2 separate regions of the Homo sapiens genome follow, and region 1 is linked to region 2. Evidence: fine-mapped expression QTL. A gene starts in region 2. The other region holds a variant in brackets. All regions are shown on one strand. Distances are from middle to middle.

What was found.
Region 1: its variant is fine-mapped to the expression of SIRPA in subcutaneous fat (GTEx, PIP above 0.99). The same link has a PIP of 0.9 or more in tibial nerve.

Annotation. Positions count from the first base shown.
Region 1 is chr20:1,804,953-1,817,794 of GRCh38, reverse strand. No RefSeq gene overlaps it. Among named protein-coding and RNA genes, the nearest start is that of SIRPA, 84 kb to the left of the region's middle. RefSeq lists a silencer at 1,178-1,472. The variant A/C (reference allele first, on the strand shown) is at 6,521.
Region 2 is chr20:1,892,363-1,902,617 of GRCh38, reverse strand. It overlaps SIRPA (signal regulatory protein alpha), which reads right to left and starts at 7,211. Exons shown (of 8, transcript NM_001040023.2): 1 at 7,092-7,211. The coding sequence starts at 7,170. It overlaps LOC102724545 (a long non-coding RNA gene), which reads left to right and starts at 8,368. Exons shown (of 4, transcript NR_186374.1): 1 at 8,368-8,499. RefSeq lists enhancers at 260-759, 1,997-2,046, 1,856-2,425, 6,051-6,566 and silencers at 7,858-7,977, 7,988-8,247.

The sequences.
Region 1 (12,842 bases), 86 kb after region 2:
CTCACTGCAAAGGGCTTGGCACAGCACCTGAGTCAGCTGCTATTGTCCAACCTGGAGTGTAGGGTGGACTGTAGTCCTTCTGTGATCTCATAATCCACCAGCAGACCCCTCCTGTGTACCCCTCTGTGTACTCCTGCTGTGTACCTGGAGACCCCCAGGTCTCCAGGGGTCAAACCACACCCCACAGGCACCTTGGAAGAAGAAATCCACAGGAGGAAAAAAAGAAGTAGGAATCTTGGTAGCTGGGAGAGTTCTGAGAGGGCATCTCAGGCAGCTGTGATGGGTTCAAGAGGAAATGGAGGCTTGGGTGCACTTCCCTGGTCTCCACCTCCTTCAAAGAGAACCCAGGGAGGAGGAAAGTGTGACCTTGAGCCTGTCCAGGGCTTCTGCCTGCCTGGCTGACCCAGAGCGGGTTGGATTCCATGCTCTGTGAAGGCCTTTGAGGTCCTAACAGTCAGGGGTTCTCGAAGTCCATGATTGTAAGCAGCCCGACTGGGGCTGGGGGGCGATGGGGAAGGGTGTCCCCTGCTCCCCCACCTCCTTCTGCCAAGGCTGCAGAGGGAACAGAGGCCGTTGCCTTCTGAAGGATTTGTCACAAAGCGCGGTGGTCGGTTACCGGTTACCACATAAGCCAAGGCCTTGATCTGCTGTGTTTGAGGAAACCCTTTGTTCCTTTCAAGTCTCTATTCTCTGAGCCAGGGCTAGTGCGGAGACCGAAGCAGTGAGCTTTCTCTTTCTTCCTTTTCTTTTTGGATTTTTAAAAATAACTGGCTTGCGCATTCAGGCGGTGTTCCAGAATTGGGTTCCCAGGCTGTGGTTCAGGGCCAGGGACTCCAGCAGCCCCTTCATCCCAGGAAGGCCTCGGGGGAGGGAGAGCCTAAGGGCTGATGGGGAGGGGAGGGCACACACAGGTGCTTGTGAGAGGCTTGGGCTCAGGAACCAACACTGAGGGGAGACTGAAGATGGGGTTCTAACTCTGGCTATGCACCCCATGCATGCCCAGTGCATCTTCTTCTGGACCTCAGTTTTTTTCAGTGCAGGGTTGGAGGCCAGAGCAGAGATGGCCACTTTTTCCCATGGCTGAGTCTATGCCAGACATTGCTCATCAATTGCCCTTCCCCACGGAGCTTGGATAAGCCCCAAGAAGTCTTTTCAACACCGTGCTCTGGGTATCTACTGCCAATTGCATTTGGCATGCAAAGTGAGACCTGCTTCCTGTCCTGAGAGAAGATCATCTCTGAGGCACCAATATGAAGTGGGGATGCAATAAATATTTTTTGGATGAATGGGCACTGCTTTTTTTAGCCCTTACTTCATGCCAGGCATTGTTCTGAGTACTGTTTAGAACATGCCAGGCATTGTTCTAAACGTTGAACAAAACAAAGTTCCTGACCTCAATCTCACATGTGAGGGAGACAGGCAATAAGCAAATGAACAGAGAAACAGATCAAATGTCAGGTGGTGATCAGAGCCATAAAGAAAAATTAAAACAATAGAGAGTGACAGGCTGTGGGTCGGTAGGGGGGAACGTTGTGGATAAGGTACCCAGAGAAGATCTTCTGGGAAAGAGATATGGAGTAGACAAAGTGACAGTCTCCTCAGAGCCCATCACTCTAGGACTTTGAGTCTAAATTTGTCTGACTTTAAGATTCTAATTTCATTGAGTAAGATTCTAGAATCTCGTGAATCTAGGAACCTATAACCAAAATTATAGATTTTCACTGCTCTCATATTCCATGACAATGATGCTAGAATTCTGTGACTCTGAAATTCTAGGCTTCACTGATGCATCTTTTTGCTTGAACAGACCAGGATTCATTGCCTACCCTCTCCCCACTACCCCTAGGAAATGGAGCTGAAAATAGAAACAGTCAAAACAACAAGCCATTCCAGCTCTAAGTGCCATAGTAAACAAATGGTCCAATGTTGCTCTGATAGTTTAATTGCGGCAGTTCCAGACAAGCCCATTCATGAAGGATCTTTAGTTGATGGAGAGGAGGAGTGAGCACCCAGGGAAGGGATGGCTTGTAGGGCAGGCACTTGGGGGAGGTCTGCGTCACGACCCCAGCTGAGGATGATGCTCTGGGAAGCCTGTTGGGTTTCAGCAGCCAAAGCATTGGTATTTGGATCAGGCCCCTTGGCCTTTAAGGACCACAATGGTGGCTATTTTAACTGGCAAAGTAAAGAAGTGTCTCTTTGAGGATGTGGCATTAGAGCTAGACTGGAAGACTTAAGAAGATACTAGCTTGACAGAAATCCAGGGAAGTGAGTCCCAGGCAAAGGGGAAGAGCAGATTCAAAGGTCCTGAGGTGAGAGAGAGCTTGGCAGGTTCCCCAAGTATTCAGAGCATAGGACAGAGAGGAGATGATATCAGAGGGATAAGCAGGGGCTGTTTCCTATAGGGGTTTGGAGGTCAGGGTTAGGAATATGGAAGCCACTGGAAGGTTTTTAACAGGGGAGTGACATGATATAAATCCATATTCAAAAGATTACTAAGTGCTTTGAGTAGAAGAGACTACTGGGGGCAAGAGTAGAAACTGAAAGACCAGTGAGAGACCCCAGTGTTTCAGTGAGAAATGATGGTTGTTTGGATTTAGATGGTGGCAGTGGGTCCATCTGTTTGTCTACCGCTTTGTTCTTCCCTCCTTTCTTCCATTCTTCTATCTCTTCATCCATCCATTCATCCATCCACCCATCCATCCACCCACCCATCCATCCACCCACCCATCCATCCACCCACCAACCCATCCACCCATTCATCCACCCACCCATCCATCCATGCATGCATCCATCCATCCATCCATCCATCCATCCATCCATCCATCCACCCTCCCATCCACCCACCCACCCATCCATCCATCCATCCATCCACCCACCCACCCATCCATCCATCCATTAACTAAACACTCAGAGCCAGGGGCTGTGCTGGGTGTGTCTATGGGGAGTCAGGTACAATGCTGAGATAACAAGAATGAAATACACATGGTTCCCAGCCTAAGGGGCTTACAAAACAGCAGGGTACACAAAATTGCAATGTAATGTTATGAATGCTCCAGTTAAGGAATGCATGAAGCACCGAGAGAGCTCATGGGAGGTAATTCCCTATGCTCTGTCCTGGAGGAGATACTGATGTTTGAGTTGGGCCTTTCGAAGGACACGGGAGTTGGACAGGCAGCAGAAGAGTGTTCCTGGCAGGGGCACACAGCTTGAGTAAAAAGCAAGGAGGCAGCATGAGTGAGCATGGCCGGTTCTGGAAATGTACAGATGTCTAGGTTGGTTGAATCAACAGATGCGAGTGGGGACGCTGTGGGAGAGGAGTTTGGGTCAACTTGGGAAGACGTGGAGCAGCATATGCCCATGACTGGGCCTGCCCCTTCCGCTCAGCTCTGCCTGCCCCTATCAGAGCTGAATAATTGAATTAAGTACCAGCTCTTAAACAAGATGCAGCTGTTTAGCAGATGTTGCTTCCACCCCAGATGGAGGTGCATCTTGGCGACGGGCACAACATTTCGAAGGCGTCTAATTTGTGAGGCTGTGGAGAGGAAAGAACTTCAAGATGCTGGCATTATTATTTAATAACCATCATTAATTACACACTCCCTCCCTCCAGCACCACTGCATGTCAAACATTCCTGCCGGATTGGGACTGGGGGCACAGAGGCGGGCTGGCAGGTGGGCTTGGGGGTTGGACTTGCTGGTTCTGATTCAGAAAAACAAAAGAAGAAAAGGGAATAAAGTCATCAATCCACAAAGCCTTCAAGAACTTTTATAATAATGGAAAATGACTTCTCTTGCATTTTTCATAAAATGAGTACAAATAATAACTGCTATTGATTGAACCCCCACTCAGAGCCAGGGGCTGTGCTGGGTGTGTCTTAGACATTGCCTCCAATTCCCTAATCCTCCCAACAGCCACGCATGGCCCTACCTCAGGGCCTTTGCCCTTGATGTCTCCTCCGACTGGGAAGGTTCTTCCTTCAGACACCCACATGGCTAACTCCCCTACATCTTTCAAAGCTCCACTTAAATGTCAGCTCCCCAGAGAGGCCTTCCCTGACCACCACTCCCTGAAATAATGTCCTCCACATTCTTGACCTCCTTCCCTTGCTTTTTCTTTCATCACCTGATATACGTATATTTGTTAATTGTCTATTTCTCCCTTTTAGATTTTAAGCTCCCAAGGGCAAGGATTTTTGTTTCATTCACTGTGGCCTCCCCAGCACTCAAAACAATGCTTGACACAGGACAGAGTTCTTTTTTCTTTTTTGAGATGGAGTCTGGCTCACTTGCCCAGGCTGAAGTGCAGTGGCACGATCTTGGCTCACTATAACCTCTGTCTCCTGGGTTCAAGCGATTCTCCTGTCACAGCCTCTGGAATAGCTGGGATTACAAGTGCACGCCACCATGTCCAGCTATTTTTTTTTCTTTTTTGGGGGGGTATTTTTAGTAGAGATGTGATTTCATCATATTGGCCGGGCTGGTATCCAACTCCTGACCTCAGTGACCCGCCTGCATCGGCCTCCTGAAGTGCTGGGATTACAGGCATGAGCCACCGTGCCTGGCCCAGAGTTCTATAAATATTTGTTCAATGGGTGGGTGATTCATCAGTGGGTCTCATTAAAAAATGTGCAGAAGAGTGTTAGGGAGATAAAATCTCTTTCCCAGGCATTACACAGCCAGCAAAGAGCAAGCTGAGATTTGAATTCAGCTCTGTCTAATTCTAAAGCTCTGCTCTTTTCATTAAGGACTTTGTTTTTCTTCTCCAAAGAACTTATTACCACTTACATATTATTATTATTATTTTTGAGACGAAGTCTTGCTCTGTTGCCCAGGCTGGAGTGCAGTGGCATGATCTCGGCTCACTGCAACCTCCGCCTCCCAGGTTCAAGTGATTATCATGCCTCAGCCTCCCGAGTAGCTGGGATTACAGGCATGTGCCACCACGCCCTTGTATTTTTAGTAGAGATGGGGTTTCACCATGTTGGTTAGGCTGGTCTCGAACTCCTGACCTCAGGTGATCCAACACCCCCCCCCCCACCCCTCGGCCTCCCGAAGTGTCAGGATTACAGGCGTGAGCCACCACGCCCAGCCCACTTACTTATTATTTATCTATTCATGTGTTTAATGTCTGTCCTTCCCACTACAATGGCAGCTCCACTGAGGGCAGAGTTCATCTGTTCTGTTCACAGCTGAATCCCCAGCCCCAAAACAGTACCTGGCACCCAGGAAATGCTTTATAAATATACGCTGAATGAAGGAAAGAAGGTCTGGGATATGGGAGGCTGGAGGTGTTCACACCCTTGCTGGGTCTCTGACTGGGTGAGACGGTGGGGAGCTCCAAGATGTTTTCCACTTCCCCAACCCCTCCCACATACAGACTTCTTATTCACTCTTGGAAGCAATGCTGCAAGGGAAGTATTATCCAAACCATTTTACAGATGGGGAAATTGAGGCTCAATCAGAGAAATGATTTGCCTTTCTCAAGGTCACCCAGCTAGTAAGTGTCAGAGCTGGGATTTAAACCTAGGTCTCCAGAGTTCACTTGTCATGCAAAAGGGACCCTTAATGCTTGCTAGCTCTGCCCACCCAAAGGCAATAGCTAGAAGGTCCAGAAGGTCCAGTCACAATCTATGCATTTCCCCATCAAGGTCAGGGGTGTCAGGACCAATGTGAAACTCATGCTTAATTCACAACTCCCAGCTTTGTCCATTTAAATGAAAACTTTCATGTTATTTTAACCAAAATCCCCTGTCGACTTCAATGAAAGCTTTGAATCCATGAGGAAGGTCAGAAAGGGTTTTTTGGAGGTAGCACAGGCGCCCAGTGGAAATCATATTAGCATATTCATTATCATCAGGGCCCTTTGAATGTGTTTTTGAGCTGTTCCCTTCAAGTGACTGGAGACAATGGCTCCTTTCTGTTCACAAATTCCTGGGCTTGAAGTGGGCTGTGGCCAGCTCCTGTGTGCTTCTCTGCACTTTCCAAATGGTCACAGGGAACCCGTGTCGCATAAGGTAACAGGGAGGATGTCATCCACCAGGAGTGCTGGTGGTGAATGAGGCTCTTTGTCTGGGTTTGGAAGAAATATCTCCTCAAGTCACTTAGGCAGCTATGGTGGACCCCAAAGATGGGCTCAGGTAACAAAATATGTTGTTAAACTGTCTTCTAAGGAGGCTGGACCCTATTAACAGGAGATCCCTGAGTGTGGCAGAGTCAGGGCTGGGTCTGGGGTAACAAGGTAGTTGCTCAACTCTAGAAAGTGCCAGGATCACCCAGGGAGCATTTAGCAACCATCAGTGCCCAGCACCACCTCACCAGGCCATCTGGACCCAAATCTTGGCGAGTAGGGGAGTAAACAGGCATCAAAGGTTTGTAAGTGTCCCCAGATGCAGACAGGCAGCTAGTAAGCAGAGCAGAATGGCTCTCTCCTCGAATCAGAGGGGAGGAGAAAAGAGAAGTTGTGGGTGGGGTATGGTGGGGAGGGAGGGCTACAGGAAATCCTCTGGGCATGTGTCGGGAA[A/C]AGAGAACTTCAGGGGAAAAACACTCTTTTTTTTTTTTCTCTCTCTAAAGAAAATTCTCAAACTACAGGAAGTGGAGAGAACAGTACAGTGACCCTACACGCTTGTTACCAGCCTCACCTGTCACCCACATGGAGTCCTTCCCATTTGTGGGGTTTCCAGGTGTGTGCCTGTCCCAGGGAGGCCACGTGCCCCTGCTGCCCCAGAACCTTCCTTCTGTAAAGCCCACGCTGCTCTCCAGTGATTCTGACAGTAGATCCTTGGTGGGAACACAGAGCTCCAGCTCTCAGCCCGGGACAAGCTTTGACAGGAGAGCCAGCTACTGGGACACAAGTCCTTTTGTGTGAAGGGAAAAAAAAAAATAGTTCTAATTAAAAAGAAATCCCCACCTATTTGGACTAATTCCTCCATGACTAGCTTCTCCTTAGTTCTCCTGTTTTCGGACAGGGCCTGAGGCCGATTTCCCCTGAATAGGATCAAAGAAGTGAGGGGACTAGCCTAGGGCCTGGAACACCCAGAGGGTGGCTGCTGGGGGCGTGAGAACTGGGTAGGGGTGCCTCCAGGAAGTCCTCTTATGTGTGCTTCTTTGTTCATTTGACAAGGATTTGCTGAGCACCTACTATGCATCAGACGCTGTGTTCTAGGCAAGGGGGATACACCTGATGGAAGAAGGTCCTTCCCTAGACGTAGCTAACATCCCAGTGTGGGAGATGACACGAAACAGTAAGTAAAATCTACCGCGTGTCAATAGATGGTGTTAAATGCTACAGAGAAAGTTAAAGCAGGGAAGGAGACGGGGGAGGGACTGCTGGAGTGGGTGGTAATTTTTAATGAGGTACCCAGGGAAGGCATCTCTGCAGACCCACACAAGTGAGATAGGGAGCCGTGCTGGAGGGGCACCCCAGGCAGAGGGCACAGCAGATGCAAAGGCCCATGGGTGGGAGTTCTCCTTCCAGGAGTGGTGATCACCTTGAGTGGCTGGAATAGAGGAAGGGCTGGGGAGAGCTCTGGGAGGTGAGGTCAGGGAGGCAGGTCTGTAGGGGAAACTGAGGAGGTCAGACTGTGTGACTTAGGAGGCCTTTGTTTTTCCTCTGAGTGAGAAGGGCAGTGATGGGTGGGTTTTGAGCAAGAGGACTACAAGCTCCAGCCTAGGTTTTAACAGGACATCTCTGGCTGCTGAGTTCAGAACAAGTTGTAGAAGGCAGGCCAGAGGCAAGAGGAGGCTGTTGTGTCACCCCAGGTGACAGACGATAGTGGGTCAGACTAGGGTGATCATGGAGGGCACGGATACGTTTAGAAGGAAGAGCCAATAGAATTTGTGGACTGCAAGAATGTTGGAATATGACTCAGGACAGCCAGGGCTGACTCCAAGGTATTTGACCTAAGCAGCTCGAATTATAGAGTTGGCATTTCCTGATATGAAAATCCTGCAGAAGGGGTGGGTTTTGGAGGCACAATCAGGAGTTCCATTTTGGACAGGTGAGATTTGACATGCCTGTGTAACACGGACGGAGCTGTGGAGTTAGTAGCTGGGCATGAGGCTGGAGTGCAGGGGAGACGCCTGGCCCGGAGTCACCCCAGATGGTGAGTGAGATCACTTAGGATATGATTGTAGATGGTGAGACATGGACTAAGGTTCTGATATAACAGGAACTGGGCCAGGCCATGTCTTCTGGGCCTCGTCACCTGGGATTGATGGAGGGATGTCCTGATCCTACCTCCCTCTCCATTCACCACTTCCAAATCTTAGCATTTACCCTAAAGATAAACGGGAGAGCTGAGCTAGCCTAATTTTGGTTGAAAAGAGCAGAGCCTCTCTCCTAACTTGAGCCATGGGGGTTGTTGTAAAGCTACATGCAGGGACTGGAAGGCAGGAATTTTGACCACACATCACAGAATACAACTTAGCCACTGGAACATCATTCAGGACCCAGTGCTCTGGGACTGAGTCAGTTCATAGTCATCTCAGGAGCAGACGTTTGTCAAATTTCTCCTCCCCCTTGTCTGTCTTGGAAGTTTGGCTTACTCATTGCCCCTGTGCCTTCACATTTGTTTGAATTATGTCATCTTTTAGGGTCTTTCAGCTTGTAGGCATCATCCCAACTCTTTGTGGTCCAATTCAAACTGGCAGCCACCATCACTGCTGATGAGTTTAGTTAATTGGGCTCAGCCCTGCTGGGTGGAGCTTCTGTCCCAGGCTGTATCACAGGCTGCTCAGCCTATATTTTGGCAGTCTTTGGGTCAGGTGGCTCTTCCTGCCCCCACCAGGTGTTGTGGAAGTGTGGAGATATTGGGTAAAGAATTCAAGGTCAATAATAGTAATGTCAACAGTAATAGTAACAGCATGGCTATTGATTAAGGAAGACTGCATCAGACAGACTGGGTTCCGGTTCAAGCCCAGCTTCTACCACTTACTATGACCTTGGGCAGCTCGTTCAGCCTAACTGCATCCCCATCTCTACATCTACAAGTGGGAAATAATAATGTTAACTACATCTTAGCATTGTGGTGAGGAGTATATAAACTAATCAAGAAGACTCTTATGGCATATAATTTAATCAGGGCTCAAAAAACACCAGTCACTCTTACCATGACTATTGGTTGAACAGTTCTTCTGTGCTAAATGAGGTGCTTTAAAGGCGCACATTCTCATTTGATTCCTTATAAAATCCCAATGAGACAGGTTCTTTTTTCAGCCCCAACTTATAGCTGTGAAACTGGAGGCAGAAGTGATATGACTTATCCAAAGGTCCTTCAGCTAGTACGAGATGAAGCTGGGACACTCAAACACAGGTTTATCTGGTTTCAGAACCGGTGGTCTCACTGTGTCCCCCCAGCGGGGCATATAGAATATGTAAATGCTCACCCTGGGCCACTTCCTCTGCAAGACTGTGGGCAGGAGCCCCCACAAGAAGGTGCAGGGCACTCCCTGATCCTCCACAACCCCACTCCCTACCCCAGATCTTTCTGCCTTCCGAGGAGATAATGCCTAGTCTTCTAAATACTACTCAGATCCAGTGGGATTGTGCCCCTCGCCTGCTCTGCCCTGCAAAGGCCATTCCTATTCCTTGTCCTGTGTGGTCCTCAACATTTCAATTACTTAGCAAAGCAGGGATTATTTCCTCCCATTTGACAGATGCAGAAACTGAAATTCACCGAAAGGATGGAACCGTATTCTCCCCAGTCCTTACAAGGAGCATTTGGAGAAAGGCAAAACTGAACTTGAGGGGAACAGGGAGTCACTGCATGTCCTCGAACAGGGGTGAGGCAAAGGCAAGAAAGACCGGGGTCAGAACAGAGAAGCTTGGAGCTGGAGCAGAAAGGTGCCTCATTTAACTGGGCCTGTGCCCTGCTTAGCAATGTAGCCAGTTCTGCAAAGTCTCCTCCAGACTTGGGGTTCAGTCAGGGTGTAAAGGAAATAGAATGATATGAATTCCTGGTGCCAGTTTAATTTCATGAAATATGCCAGCATGGCCCTGGGGCTTGATGCAGTCTTCCCTACTGAAGGATCACAGCGGGAAGGGAGCATCTGCAGGCTCTTGGCTCACATTTGTCACCTGTAACCTTCACACACCAGGCACAAGTCTTGCCCATGCTCCGGGGCTGTCATCCATAAACAGTCCCTGAGCTTCACATGTGTGGGTTTCACAGCACAGCTCTGGAATCTGACAGTCGAGGGTTTGAATCTCAGCCTTGCACCTACTCTCTGTGTGGCCCGGAGCAAGTCATTTAACCTCTCTGGGTTTCTGCTTCCTCGTCTGTGATCCTCACTCAGTGGGATACTGCGGAGATCAAGTGAGATATGTTCATTTAGTGCTTGGCACAGTGCCTGGTGTGTGGCAAACCCCATTACTGTTTCACACAACACAAAATAATTCGGACACTTGCTGTTGGCATAGGAATGATTAAAAGATATACGGTATAGGAACATAACAAATAATAAAAAAGGAAAGATTATTTTGATGACAGAGTGGAAGATGTGTTAGGAAGGAGAAGACTGGTATAGAAACATCTCTGCTAGGAACAGTGTTTGGCTGTTGGTAGCAAAAACAACAACAACAACAACAAAACACCTAACCATGGAATAGATTTTAGTTGGTCCTCAATACCCATGCTCCCCTTCTTCCTTAGTCAACAAAATCCCTAATTTTCATCAGAATACATGGCTTGCCTCCTGCAATAAAGATTACAGTTTCCAGTTTCCCTTCCATATCCTAGGTATGCCCATGTAAGTTCTGGCCAATGGAAAATGTTGTGTGTGACTTCCAGAAAATGTCTTAAAAGGGAAGGTAAACACCTTCCTCCACCAGTCCTCCACACTTTCTGGAATTTGAGACATGATGACTACATCTCAAGCAGCTCGGACCATGTGATAATTTAAAGATGGCTGTGGATTCTTTGATCCTCCTCCCTTTGAGAGGAGTCAATTTCCCCTGTACTTAAATCTGGGCTGACCTGTGACTTCTTTGACCAATAGAGTATGGTGGAAATGATGTCACGCCCACTCCAGGCCTAACCTCTAGGAGGACTGGCAGTTTCTGCTATGGCCTCTGGGAGCCATGAGCTGCCATGAAAAAGGTCAAACTACTCTGCTGGAGACACCCACCTGGAGAAGCCCTGGGATTCCATGGAGAGGCAGACGGACCCAGCTGAGCTCAGTGTTCCAGCCATCCCCACGAAAGCACCAGGAACCTGAGTGAAACCATCTCGATCCTCCAGCATAGCACAATCAGCAGCTGAAGATCACTGAGTGACTCTAGTCGGCGCTCCATGGATCACTGAAGGATCACCCAGCTGAGCCCTGCGCAAATTTCTGACTCACAAAACTGTAGACGATACAATGGTTGTTGTTTGGGGGCAGTTTGTTATGCTGTAGCAATAAATAGCCAGAAGAGACCAAGAGGCAGAAGTTGTTTGCTGAAAATAATGCAAAAATTATACCAGCCCTTGCCCAGCTACCTCCGGATTTCTTGCTACATGAAAAAAAAAAAAAAAATCCCTATTTGTTTAAGCCTCGTTGACACCTTGGGCTATTGCTCAGTCCTCAGTTTTCCATTTGTTAAATGGAGCATTAGCTCCTGTCTTACTACTTCCCAAAGGTGCCTGAGAGGGTAGAGTAAGAATGAAGAAGAGAAGGCCTTTTTCATGTAATATAAACAGTGCTTATGTTCCCAAAGATCAGCGAGTGACATGCTCAAACAGTTATAATATATTTAATGTGGTCATAATGGGAGTGAACTTGTCATGAACCAATTGCAATGGATTTTGGAATCAGACACGTTAGGGCTTGAGGCTCTCAGCTCTGCTAGACAAACTTCTAACTTGACAAATAGGCCAGTCATTAAATCTCTCCAAGCCTTAGTTCCCTCATCAATAAAGCACAGACGATGTGATTTCCCTCCGTTGAGTCTGTGTGAGGATTAAATTAAATGAGATTCATCCATCTATTTGATAAATATTGAATATCTCCTAGGGTCTAGGCCAAACACACTCTTGATATTGGTGGAGGCTGGTGTCCACTCACCCTTAAATCTAAATATTTAAAAATTATAAATCAGACCAATACCTTCTCTTAAATGTTCTATCCTTCTCCTCAGTAAGTATAACTTCTCAGCAGCCTGAAAGGCCAGGATTGATTTGGATTTCTTAGATACTCGCACTGAAATGTGGCGGTGCTGGGGAGAGCCAGCCCCATTCCCTGGTCGCTCATTTCCCAGCCTATAAACTGCCACCTTCCCTTCTCATCCCCAGCTCCATCCTGTACCGTGCACACCTCACCTGCATGTGTGTAGACATCCCAGGCTGCAGGTCCAATCTCCATCCACACCCTATCCTCTGCAGTGCCCCTTGGCTACACCCTGGGCTTAGTGTTCTGCCTCCAGACAATAGACCAGGAAGAGGCCTGGCAGCAGGCTTGGGACTTTTAGGTAGGGAGCTCAGGAATCCTAGGAATCTGTAGTATTCTAGACAAGGAGCAAAGACTTGGATGGGTATATCCCCTTGGCACTGCAGACTCTCTAGCCTGTGGGGATGTACGCAGCTGGAGGCTGGCCAGGGCAGAGCCCCGCTTGCCTGGGTCCAAGGATGGGCTGGTCAGCCTGTGCTAGGTGCTGCAGGTACATGAGTAGATGAAGCAGATACCACCCCTGCTTCTCCTACTCAAAGGTGAAGACACATCCCTGAAGTCAGGGCCTCAGTCTTAGCCCTATCTATAAGATGAGGGCTTACCTGATCTGACATCAGGTAATGTTGGAGACTTGGTGTACGTCCTCAGGAATGTCCTAGAAGCCAGGAGGTCAGATGAGGAGGGGCAAGCTTAAGGCC
Region 2 (10,255 bases):
TGTTTACTTGGGTGTGTTTTTCTCTTCCTCACTAGAATGTCTGCTGCACGAGAGCAGGTGTTTTTGTCTGTCTTGTTCACATTTGTATCCTCCAAGCACCTAGAGCCATCCCTGGCACATAGTAGGTGCTCAAAAATATTTGTTGAATGAATATTTACAATTAAAATGACCCTAATAATGACTGCAAAGTGGTTAAGGGTAAAGTGAGGAGTGGAGCCTGGCTTTACCTCTCACTGGCTGTGTGGCCTAAGGATGAGCCCCACTTGGCCTTGGGAAGCCTCAGTTGCCTTATCTGTAAAGTGGGGATGAAGGGCCATACTGTTTGGCTCGTGGTGAGGGTCAGGTAACAGCTCACATGAAGGGATGTGGAGAGAGTATCGGTGGGTGAAATGATACCCCATGTTTAGCACTTGCTTTATATACTCCCCGATTCTCCTCTCCCTAGCAAAAATAGGGGCAGGGGACAAGCATGGTATAGAGTTGATCAGTGTCAAAGCTGAGGCTCATTACATCATTCCTTCTCATTTTGCATATGTTTGAAATTTTCCAAAATAAAAAGATAAGGAAGAGCTAACACATGTTCAAGGCTCAGCCTGTGCCGAGCACATCGTGTACCTAGTATTTCCTTCCACCACGGGCTTCCATTTCTGGAGAACACCGACGGTCGGCCTGAAGAATGGAGCTGTAGAAACGGCGCTGGTATCACCGCCCACCTGCTCCAGCCGTCCCTCCTGGCTGGGAGGCCCATCGCTCACTCCCGGCTTCCAATTTCCCTCCTGATCCGAGCACCTGATCTCCTTGGGCTCTTGGCGCTAATCTGCAGCCATCTAACACCCTGCGCCCCCGAACGAATGTGCCAGGAAATCTTACAGACACAAAGAACCAATTCTGCAGCATTTCCGACTTCCACCTCAGCTGTTTTGCATCTCTCTGGACTGAGGGCCTGGCAAGACACCTGGCAGGGAAAATCCATCTCGTGGAGGGCTTCATCAGAATACCCATCCCAGGAACACCAGCAGTTAACAGGAAAGCAGTTTCAGCTGTGAAAATAGATGCTTCCTTCTCTAGTATGGGGACAGGGACACACCTTGGGGACACACACTGCCCCCACCTCATAGGAAGGTGCACTGATAGAAATACGAGAGGAGGCCGGGTGCAGTGGCTCACGCCTGTAATCCCAGCACTTTGGGAGGCCGAGGCGGGAGGATCACCTGAGGTCAGGAGTTTGAGACCAGCCTGATCAATATGGTGAAACCCAGTCTCTACTAAAAACACAAAAATTAGCTGGGCGTGACGGTGTGCGCCTGTAGTCCTAGCTACTGGGGAGGCTGAGATAGGAGAATTGCTTGGACCCAGGAGGCAGAGGCTGCAGTGAGCCGAGGTCGCACCACTGCACTCCAGCCTGGGCGACAGAGCAAGACTCCGTCTCAAAAAAAAAAAAAAAAAAAAAAAAAGAAAGAAAGAAAGGAAGAAAAAACAAAAACAAAAATGAGAGGAGCACTAAGGGAGCAGGGTGCCAGCACAACTGGGCCTCAGTTTCCCTACCTGTCAAGCAAGCCTCAGTGACGGCTAAGGAATGGCACAACAGTTAACCACATAGGCTCTGTGATTAGGCCGACAGTGGTTATCCACATCTGGCGCTTACGGTGTGGCCTTGGGCAAGCTGCTTCACCATTCAGAGCCTCAGTTTCCTCACAGATCCAACGGGTCCGAAGATAACGACGTGCATCGCCAGGTGGCTGTGAGTACCACCAGGGTCACACACACCAAGTGCTGAGCCCAGGAAGCAGAGAACCCAGATGGTTCCTATTAGTATTACTTTAGTGTTTTCCCGGGGAATTCGGGATCCTGTCAGATTTCTGGCTGAAACAGTGGAAAGTTCCAGCACAGCCCAGTTTTTAAAAGCCTTGGCCTGGACCACAGGAGGCTTGGCGTTCCAGCCGGGCCTTGCCATGGATCTCCCGCGTGGGCCCGGCCAGTTTTTTTCTCTCTGTTCTTCTGGCCGCACCATAAGGCACTGGATGAAAGCACAGAGGGCTCTCTCAGGCCCCCTACTGCTTTGCAGGTCCGGGAATCCACAACTGCAGACCTGTGGATCCAGATAGAGACACCTAGAGGCAGGCTGTGCCCACAGCACTCAGTCCCTAGTAACAGGCAATTAAATCACTCTAGCCTGGGTTTCTACTCAACTTGTCCATCCCCCAACAGCATAAAAGCTACAAGGACAGCTGGGTGGTGCGGTGGCTCAGCCTGTAATCCCAGCACTTTGGGAGGTGGATCACCTGGGGTCAGGAGTTCGAGACCAGCCTGACCAACACGGAGAAACCTTGTCTCTACTAAAAATACAAAATCAGCCAGGCATGGTGGCGCATCCCTGTAATCCCAGCTACTCGGGAGGCTGAGGCAGGAGAATCGCTTGAACCCAGGAGGCGGAGGTTGCGTTGAGCCGAGATCACGCCATTGCACTCCAGCCTGGGCAACAAGAGTGAAACTCCATCTCAAAAAAAAAAAAAAGAAAAAAAAAAAGCTACAAGGAAAATATCAAGCTGAAGGACATTTGTTCACTGAACAGCCTTTGCTGTTTTTTAAGTACCCCCTATGTGTAAGCAACTGTGTTAGATGTTTTATGAAAATCCGTCCCAATTGTTAAAAAAGAGGAATCAAACCAGAATAAAGCCATGCTAATTACAACACTGGTTAATATGTATTGAGTGCTTACTACATACAAGGCATGGCTTCCAGCATTATACACGCATTAATTAACTTAATCCTTGCAATAGAGTGGTTAATACCATTCCTCTTTTACAGATGAGCAAAATGAGACACAGATTCCTGCAAATTGTCCAAGTCAGTAGCAGGGCTCAGATCAACACCCAGGGGTCTTAGCACCATCTTAGCGCTAGGCCAGGGTGTGTGTCTGCGTGGAGAGGCTCCTCTGACCTCTCCCCAGGAGGCACATTAAATTGAACCTCGGAGGATGAGTAGGATTCAGACACAGGAAGACAAGGAGGTACAGGGAGGGCATTTCTGATGGCAGGAACAGCACGGGCCAAGGCACAGAGCTGAGAGTTCAGCTGAGGGCATGGATCTGTAGAAAACCGTTTACCAAACGGAGAGAGGCCACATGCTAACGGGCATACTACAAATCAAATGCCTCTCGTTCATAAGTTCAGGGAACACTGGAGTAAATGTGACCCAGCTCGGGATTCTACATTGCAGGGCTTCTCAGGGTCTTTGGGGTGCTCGTGTGGCTGAGTAGCCAGCAAAGCTCTGGTCTGCAGGGAGGAAGCCTGGTTATCCTGCAGCATCTCAACAGGTCAGCTTGTTGGAAAACATGTGGCTGGAAATCAGGCCTGGCAGGGAGGAAGCCCAGGCCTCACGGCAGCTTTGTGTTTTTTTGTTTTTTTTTTTTAAAGAAAACTTGGACCCACTCAACAGTTTTGAGCTGGGGAGTGACATGATCTGAGTTGTGTTGACAGGCCAGAAATCTGAGCACATTTAAAAAGAGAGAGAGAGGGGGGAAACCTTCCGTCAGTCCAAGACTACAAATAAGAAAATAACCTGTCGCACGGAGCCATTGGAAGCAGCAAGCGAGCGCGTGTGGGATCCGTACAACACTTTTAGACTCCCTTCCTCTCGCACACCCCCTCTCCATCTGTCGCAAAGGGCACCAGGAAGATGCAGGGAGGAATATTCCAGCTCTGGGGGCTCCAGAGCTCAGCAGCCCAGATGGGGGGCTCTCACAGGAGCCACATCACCTCTCATGTGTTGTTACTGGTGAGGACCAAGGGGCTGTCAGTATTTCCACCCTCAGCAGGCTTTCAGAGAAATGCCTGTGACTTCATCAAAACCTTCTGCCCAGAGAAAGAACTCTTCTACAGTCCTCCACCCAAGGCCAGAAAGGGGCCTCTCTCACTCCCTCTCCAGCTTGGACTAAATCATCCTGATTAAGTCATTGAGCTTCTTCCCTAGAAGCCACCCAGCAGGAAGGCCAGCATCCAAAATCCTGGCTCCTCTCTATCACTTATAAGTTAGTTCCCCAGTTTGGGACTCGATTTTCTGCATCTGCAGAATGGGGAGAAGAGCCAATCCATGTCTTGCGGGTGAGACGACGCAGGAGCAGCATCCGGCCTGGAACGCCATTAACTATCTAATGAATGTTGGTTTTCCTCCCTTCTCTCAACACATGGTTCACACCAGCACTGCATAGGTGCTGCATGACTGCAAGTACAGACGTGAATTACCGTGAGTTTCCGAGGGGTTGGTAAAGGCCAGAAAGTACTCAGAGAAAACTATGGCTTTAAAGGAACTTCCAACAGCCTGATGTGTTGAGCCAAAGCACTCCCGCCCCGTTTTCTCTTCTTACGAAAGAGGAAGTGAGATTAACTTTACCATTTAGGAAAGTACAGAGGAGCCCCCAGAGTGCCACCCTCTACCAAACGGTGAGAGGTTCACTGGGGGGCCCCGCTGCTCCCCAGAGCCTGAACTGCAACTTGGCTTGGCCTCCTCCAGGCCAGAGAGAAGAAATGAATGGGAGTTTATCTGAGGTCGGCCTGGGGGGTGACTCAGAGGTCTCAAGGCCTACCTGGGGCCAAGCAGGCATCCTGCGGGTTCAGCGTCAGGCCCTGCTGACACAAAATCAGGTGCCAGGTGTCCCCAGGCCTCAGTCCCTTGCCCTTCTCCCAGCCTCAGAATCTCCCTCAGTGCAGTTGTTTTAGGAAACAGGCCTCACATTGGGTCCAAAAACATAGGTTGGTGACTTCACTGGGATCTTTTTAGAATTTCCCTTTGGCAGCATTTGTGCTAAAAGCAATCTTTAGAAACTTCTTCTCTTGCCTCCCCCACCCAGGATAATTCACATGATTGGCCCCACCCCCCCAAAACAGTGATCATGTGAAGACACAGGAATCATGTGACACCTCCCAGGCTGACAGTTCTGCCTGAGACACTAGTAGTCATTCAATCCAAAGCCGCCTTCCTAAACCTGACATTTTAGTTTCTCACTCGAACAAATCCATTTTCTTAGAAAATTGGACAACTGCCTCCTTGTACCTTCCTACCCTCATATCCTGTCTCTCTACTTCTTTGTTGTAAATTCCATGTCTGGAGCAATAGGGGGAGGGGCCTGAGGCCCCATCCTTCAGCCAAACCAGGTGACTTCCCTGCCCAGGCCCATGGTGTGACCAGGACCCCGAAGAACAGATACTGAAGGATAATGGGAGACTTGAGCTATGATGGTCGCACCTCATCCCTTCCCCACCACCCTCGACCAAGAAATTCATTCTTACCTCCTAAGATTTATTTATTTCAAAGCTAATCTTGGCCCCTCTGCTGCTCCCACTTTTTCAGGCTATTGATGCTGAATGGATTGGAACGGAAGTTTTATGGCCCAATCTTTACCATCTTATAGACTGTTTTTATAGGCAAAAGGGGGAGATGTGCTCACAAGAAAGGTGTTGGTGTTCCCAGCCGGTGCCCCAGGAAAGGCAGGCTGCCCATCGGAGCACTTGCTAATCAGCGTCACTGCTCGTTTGCCAGGGACTGAACCACAGCCTCCTGGTCGGAGAAGGGTCTGGAATAGACATTTAGAAATTAACTCGGGCCCAATTCCCTGCTTCAGGAAAATTAAGCACTTGTGAGTGACACTTGTGCATTTCCAGGCCAGGAAGGATGGCAGGGCAGGAACTCGGACTTTTGCAGGGTACAAATGGCCAGCTCAGGCAGGAAGGAGCAGATAGGAGATGCCACTCACTGGAGAGACGTGAACTGTATCAGTGCTCCCTTCAGCCCAGCAAGGACGCAACTATAACTGAAAAGAACTGGGGGTGGAGGGTGGGGTGGGGTGGGGGGATGCCTATGTGAATTCCTGGGTTTCAGGGGAAACTGCAGGGCAGAGAGAAGCAGCTGTCTACCCCCCATACTTCTCCTTCCACCCACTCTTTGCTAGTTCTCCCTTTCTCCCTGCTATCAGATGGTTACCATCTCTAGTCAAACGCAAAAGGGGGTGTTGGACACTGAGCTCATCTTTACCTCCCTCCTCAAGGGTGGGAGGTACAGAGAGACCCCACTGCCTACAACACAGTTTCAAGACGACAAAAAACAAGATCCCCATTTTTCTCTCCCTCCCAACTCCCTTAATGCCATTTCTCTGCTCCCCCCGCCCCCCACCCGGTGCCCTCCCAGGAGACCCATGGTTTTGCAAAACCCATTTAAGAAGCAAGACTCCTGAATGGTGACCTCACCCTTTGGTGAACATGCACAGTAGCCTTCAGAGCCCGCCTGCCGGCGACAGCCAGGTGTTTGATGTAGGCCAACAGAAAGACATGGTCAGAGCCACAGGTAACATCCCCGCGGAGCACCTGAACTGCAGGGAGCTGCCTGGAAGCTCGGGGAAGGCAGGAGGAAGGGGGAGCTGGGAGCGCCTCAAGGAGCAAGACCACCAGGGAGAGGCTTTGGCAACCACAGGGACAATCCACCGTGTTTTTACATAAGGATCTGTTGCTCGCAGCAGCTCGCTCTGGGGTTACCGCGGCCTCCCGGCTCCCTCTCTCCCAGGCACACACTAACACCGGTTTACTCTGCGCACCAGAGGGAGGGCTCACTCTTCCCTAATTGCAACAGCTTGTCTCTGTTCCATTCCAGGCAGCATCGGGAGGACCTCTGCCCTCACCTCCTCCCCTCACACCCTGAAGTCAAACATGTGGAAAGTCGTATGTCCATGGGGACAGATTCTGGGGAAGCCGGACGGCCCTGCTCTGAAAGCCACTGTCAGTCAGCCTTCCCCATTGGACCGGGCAGGGGCTGAGTGAAGCAACTCGGCTCTTTTGTCTCAGTGCCCAGCACAGTGCACAGAGTCAGAGTCCACAGAGACAAACTCTCATAGAAGAGACTTGGGTTCTACCCTTGGCTGTGTGACCTTGGGCATGTCGCTGGCCCTCTCTGGGCCTCAGTTTCTGCATCTATAACCCTGGTTACAGGCGTCTCTCCCCCTATTACTGCTCGGCATTAGCCGAAGGGGTCCCAGTGCCAGTCTGAGAGGCCTGAGCCCGCAGTTTGGGGAGTGCAGCGGTGGGGAGCGGGGGGGTGCTTACCTGACCAGGCGCAGGACGCGGCGAGCAGCAGGCAGAGCAGCGGCCCGAGGCGGCCGGGGGCCGGGCCGGCGGGCTCCATGGGCCGCGGCTGCGGAGCGAGGAGGGAGAGCGGCCGTGAGTGCGCGCTCGGGCGGGAGCAGGCTGGAGCGGGGAAATGACTAAGGCTCCCCCCCTTCCCCCCTCCCGGCTGGGCCTCCCCCCGACTCCGGAACGGGCGCCTGGAGCGGCCGCCGCCGCCGCCGCGGTTTTTGGAGACCCCCCCTCCCCGCCCCCCAGGAGAAATGGAGAGACGGAGACTGGGAGAGACCCCAAGCGCGCGAGAAATAAAGCCAGGGGCGGCCAGAGAGAGGCGGCAGGAGAGAGAAACAGACCCAAGGGAGCCAGGCAGAGAGCCAGAGACACGGAGAGGCGAGAGGGGGAGAAAGAGGGGGAGAGCGAGGAGCGAGGAGCGAGGCGGCGCGCAGACCGACAGACCGCGCGGGAGAGAGGACCGCGCGAGCAGGGGCGAGGGGCAGCACGGCCGAGCCCGGCCGCGCGGAGCCGCCCCCGCCGCTGCCCACCTGCCCCGCCCGGGCTCCACACGGCGCGGGCGGCTGGGCTCGCTCCCGGCCCGCAGTCCCGGCCGCTGCCCCCGCCCTCCCGGCAGCCCGACCCCCTCCCTCCTTCCCTTTCCCCTCCTCCCGTCTTCCCGCCGCCCGGGGAGGCTTCGGGGCTCCGGCCCCGCCGGCACCTTCTCTGCGAGCGAGCGCCCGCCTGCGCGCCCCGGGGGAGGGAGCGAGGGCTGCGAGCTGCGCGCCCGGCCGGGGAGGGCAGCGTCCTCCCCCGCGCCGGCGCCCGGGCCCCGGCTGCTGTCCCGGGAAGGCGGCCCCGCGAGCCGCCGCGGCCCGCTGGGGCTCGGGACTAGACGAGCCTCCGGCTCCGACAGCGTGCCCGTTCAGAAGCCCGCGCGGCTGGTCCCCAGCCCCGACCGGTCCCGCTCTGCCCCTCCCCGTCCCTGCCGGGCCCGGACCTGCGCCGCCCGCGAGGGCTGGAAGGCACTGGAAGCGCCGCCGGGGCTGCCCAGAGGCCGGGTCCCCGCTCCACTTTGCGCAAACTTGTTTTTCTAAGGTCAGCGCTGCGAGCTGGCTACATCGTCCTCTTAAGGTGGACCGGGGAAGTTGCGGCCGACCTCCCCTCGCCTCCGGACTCCGGCCGCGCGGCTGCTCCCCGCTTCCCACTGGCGAGAGGCTGGAGGCGGCGAAGGAGTCGGGGCGCGGGGGCGCGGGGGGCGGGGGGGCGTCTGCCTTTTAACCCTCCCCAGGAGGTCGTGCCTCTGAGCCCCAAAGCTGAAGGCCCCTCTTGGGGGTGGGTGCGGGCCGGAGGGGCCCGATCCTTTCAGAGCCGGGCCGAGGTGAAGGAAAAGAAGGAAGTAAGTGAACGCAGGGGGAAGGGGAGAGGAAGAAGAGATGATGGTACAAAAATAGCGTGTGTGTAGGAAGGACTTCGGTGCCGCCTGGAAAAGAGGCGCGGGGAGGAGAGGGAGCGAGAAGGGGGCTGTGGCGCGCAACCAGAGGGGAAGGGTCGGGGCCTTCCCAGGGAGGTGGAGGCCCCCTGGCCAGGTGTCTCGGTGGTGGAGGGCGGACTGGGCGGGTGGGAGGCCCAGGCCGGGGCGTGTGTGGGAGAGCGGGGCCCTGAAGGCCTGGGTTCCGGGAGAAGGACAAGCCCTGAGGAAGATGAGGGGAAGGGGAGCCGGGGCCAGAGGCCTGGAGTTGGAGAGGACAGAACCCCGGTTTTCCCGGAGGGAACGCCGTTCCTGTAGTAGCCAGGTCAGTGATGGGGAGTGCCAGTGTCGTGGTCACCTGGCAGAAGGCTCCGCACTGTGGGAGGAACACAAGTTCAAGACCCCGCTGCTAATGGGAGAGAATTTTGGTTCACACAGTGGCGGTTAAGAGGACAGGAATGACACAAGGTGAGAGAAGGCCCAACCCTGTAAATGGACAGAAAGTTGAGGCCCGGAGAGGGAATAGGTTTGCTTAAGGCCACACAGCAAAGCTTGGGGTAGAAACAAGATTTGAATTCCTGATTCCCAGGTTAAAGACCTGTGCAAAGTAACACCACTGCCTCCCCTCCTGCCCCGAGCCTCCTGGTGAAGGCATGGCCCTGCTGTTGTGCAGGGGGGCAGGGAAGGTGCCACACTTGAGAACATGGGCTGAACTCCGTGGGTTCAAATCCCCCGGCTACTGTTATGAGCTGGGTGGACTGGAAAGTGCCTTACCTCTTCTGTGCCTCAGCTTCTTCATCTGAGACGAGGCCAGCGTGAGTCTCAATTGTGAGGATTTGATGAGTTAATATTTGTAAGACATGTTAAAAAGAGCCTAGCACATACCAAGTGCAACATAAGCATTTGATAAATAAGTGAAGTGTTTGACAACAGTCCTTGAGAACCCACAGGGTTCTGGGCAGCATTTGAAGTGCAAGGGAATTTTCATTTCTCTGGGTGTGGGAGAGCACGAGGTCCCTGTCCATGAGGAATTTATATTCTACTAGGGGAGACAGGTAAGTGGACAAGTAGAAATAATTAATGAAGAACGGAAGATTGAACTTAGAGAAGGAGAGGGGTGAGCGTATTTAGATAAGGGGGCCAGTAAGACCTCCCTGAGACATGGGTTGCTGAATCACAAGTAGGGTCAGCAAGGCGAAGATTTGGGGAGAAAGGTGTTCCAGGAAGAGGGCCCAGCACAAGGAGGGGAAGGCCCCAGGTGGCTAGGCCGGAGGAGAGAAAGCGCAGTATGCAGGACTGGGGAGGGTGGGATGGTCTCCAAGACCTGGGTAAAGAGCCTGCGTTTATTCTGCAGTTGGGAGACCCCTAGAGGGTTTTCAGCACGGGAGGGCCATGTCTGATTTATGTGTCTAAAAGGCCAGTCTGCAAGCGGAGGGTGGACTGGAGAGAGAGGAGCGTGGAATTGGGCACCAATGAGAAAGATTGTTCTGGGGTTATCCTGGTATCTGAGGTGGGTGCAGGGAAGGTCTCCAACTCTTCAGGCCACATCGGGTCTAGACCATGAAGGTAACCAGGGAGGCTCCTGGGAAAATCTGTCACCAGACTCCATCTGGGGTGGGAGTGGAGATGGGGGCTGCTGATGAAGTCAGAGAAGAGGCAGCCTCCTGCCCTGGACTTCCAGAAG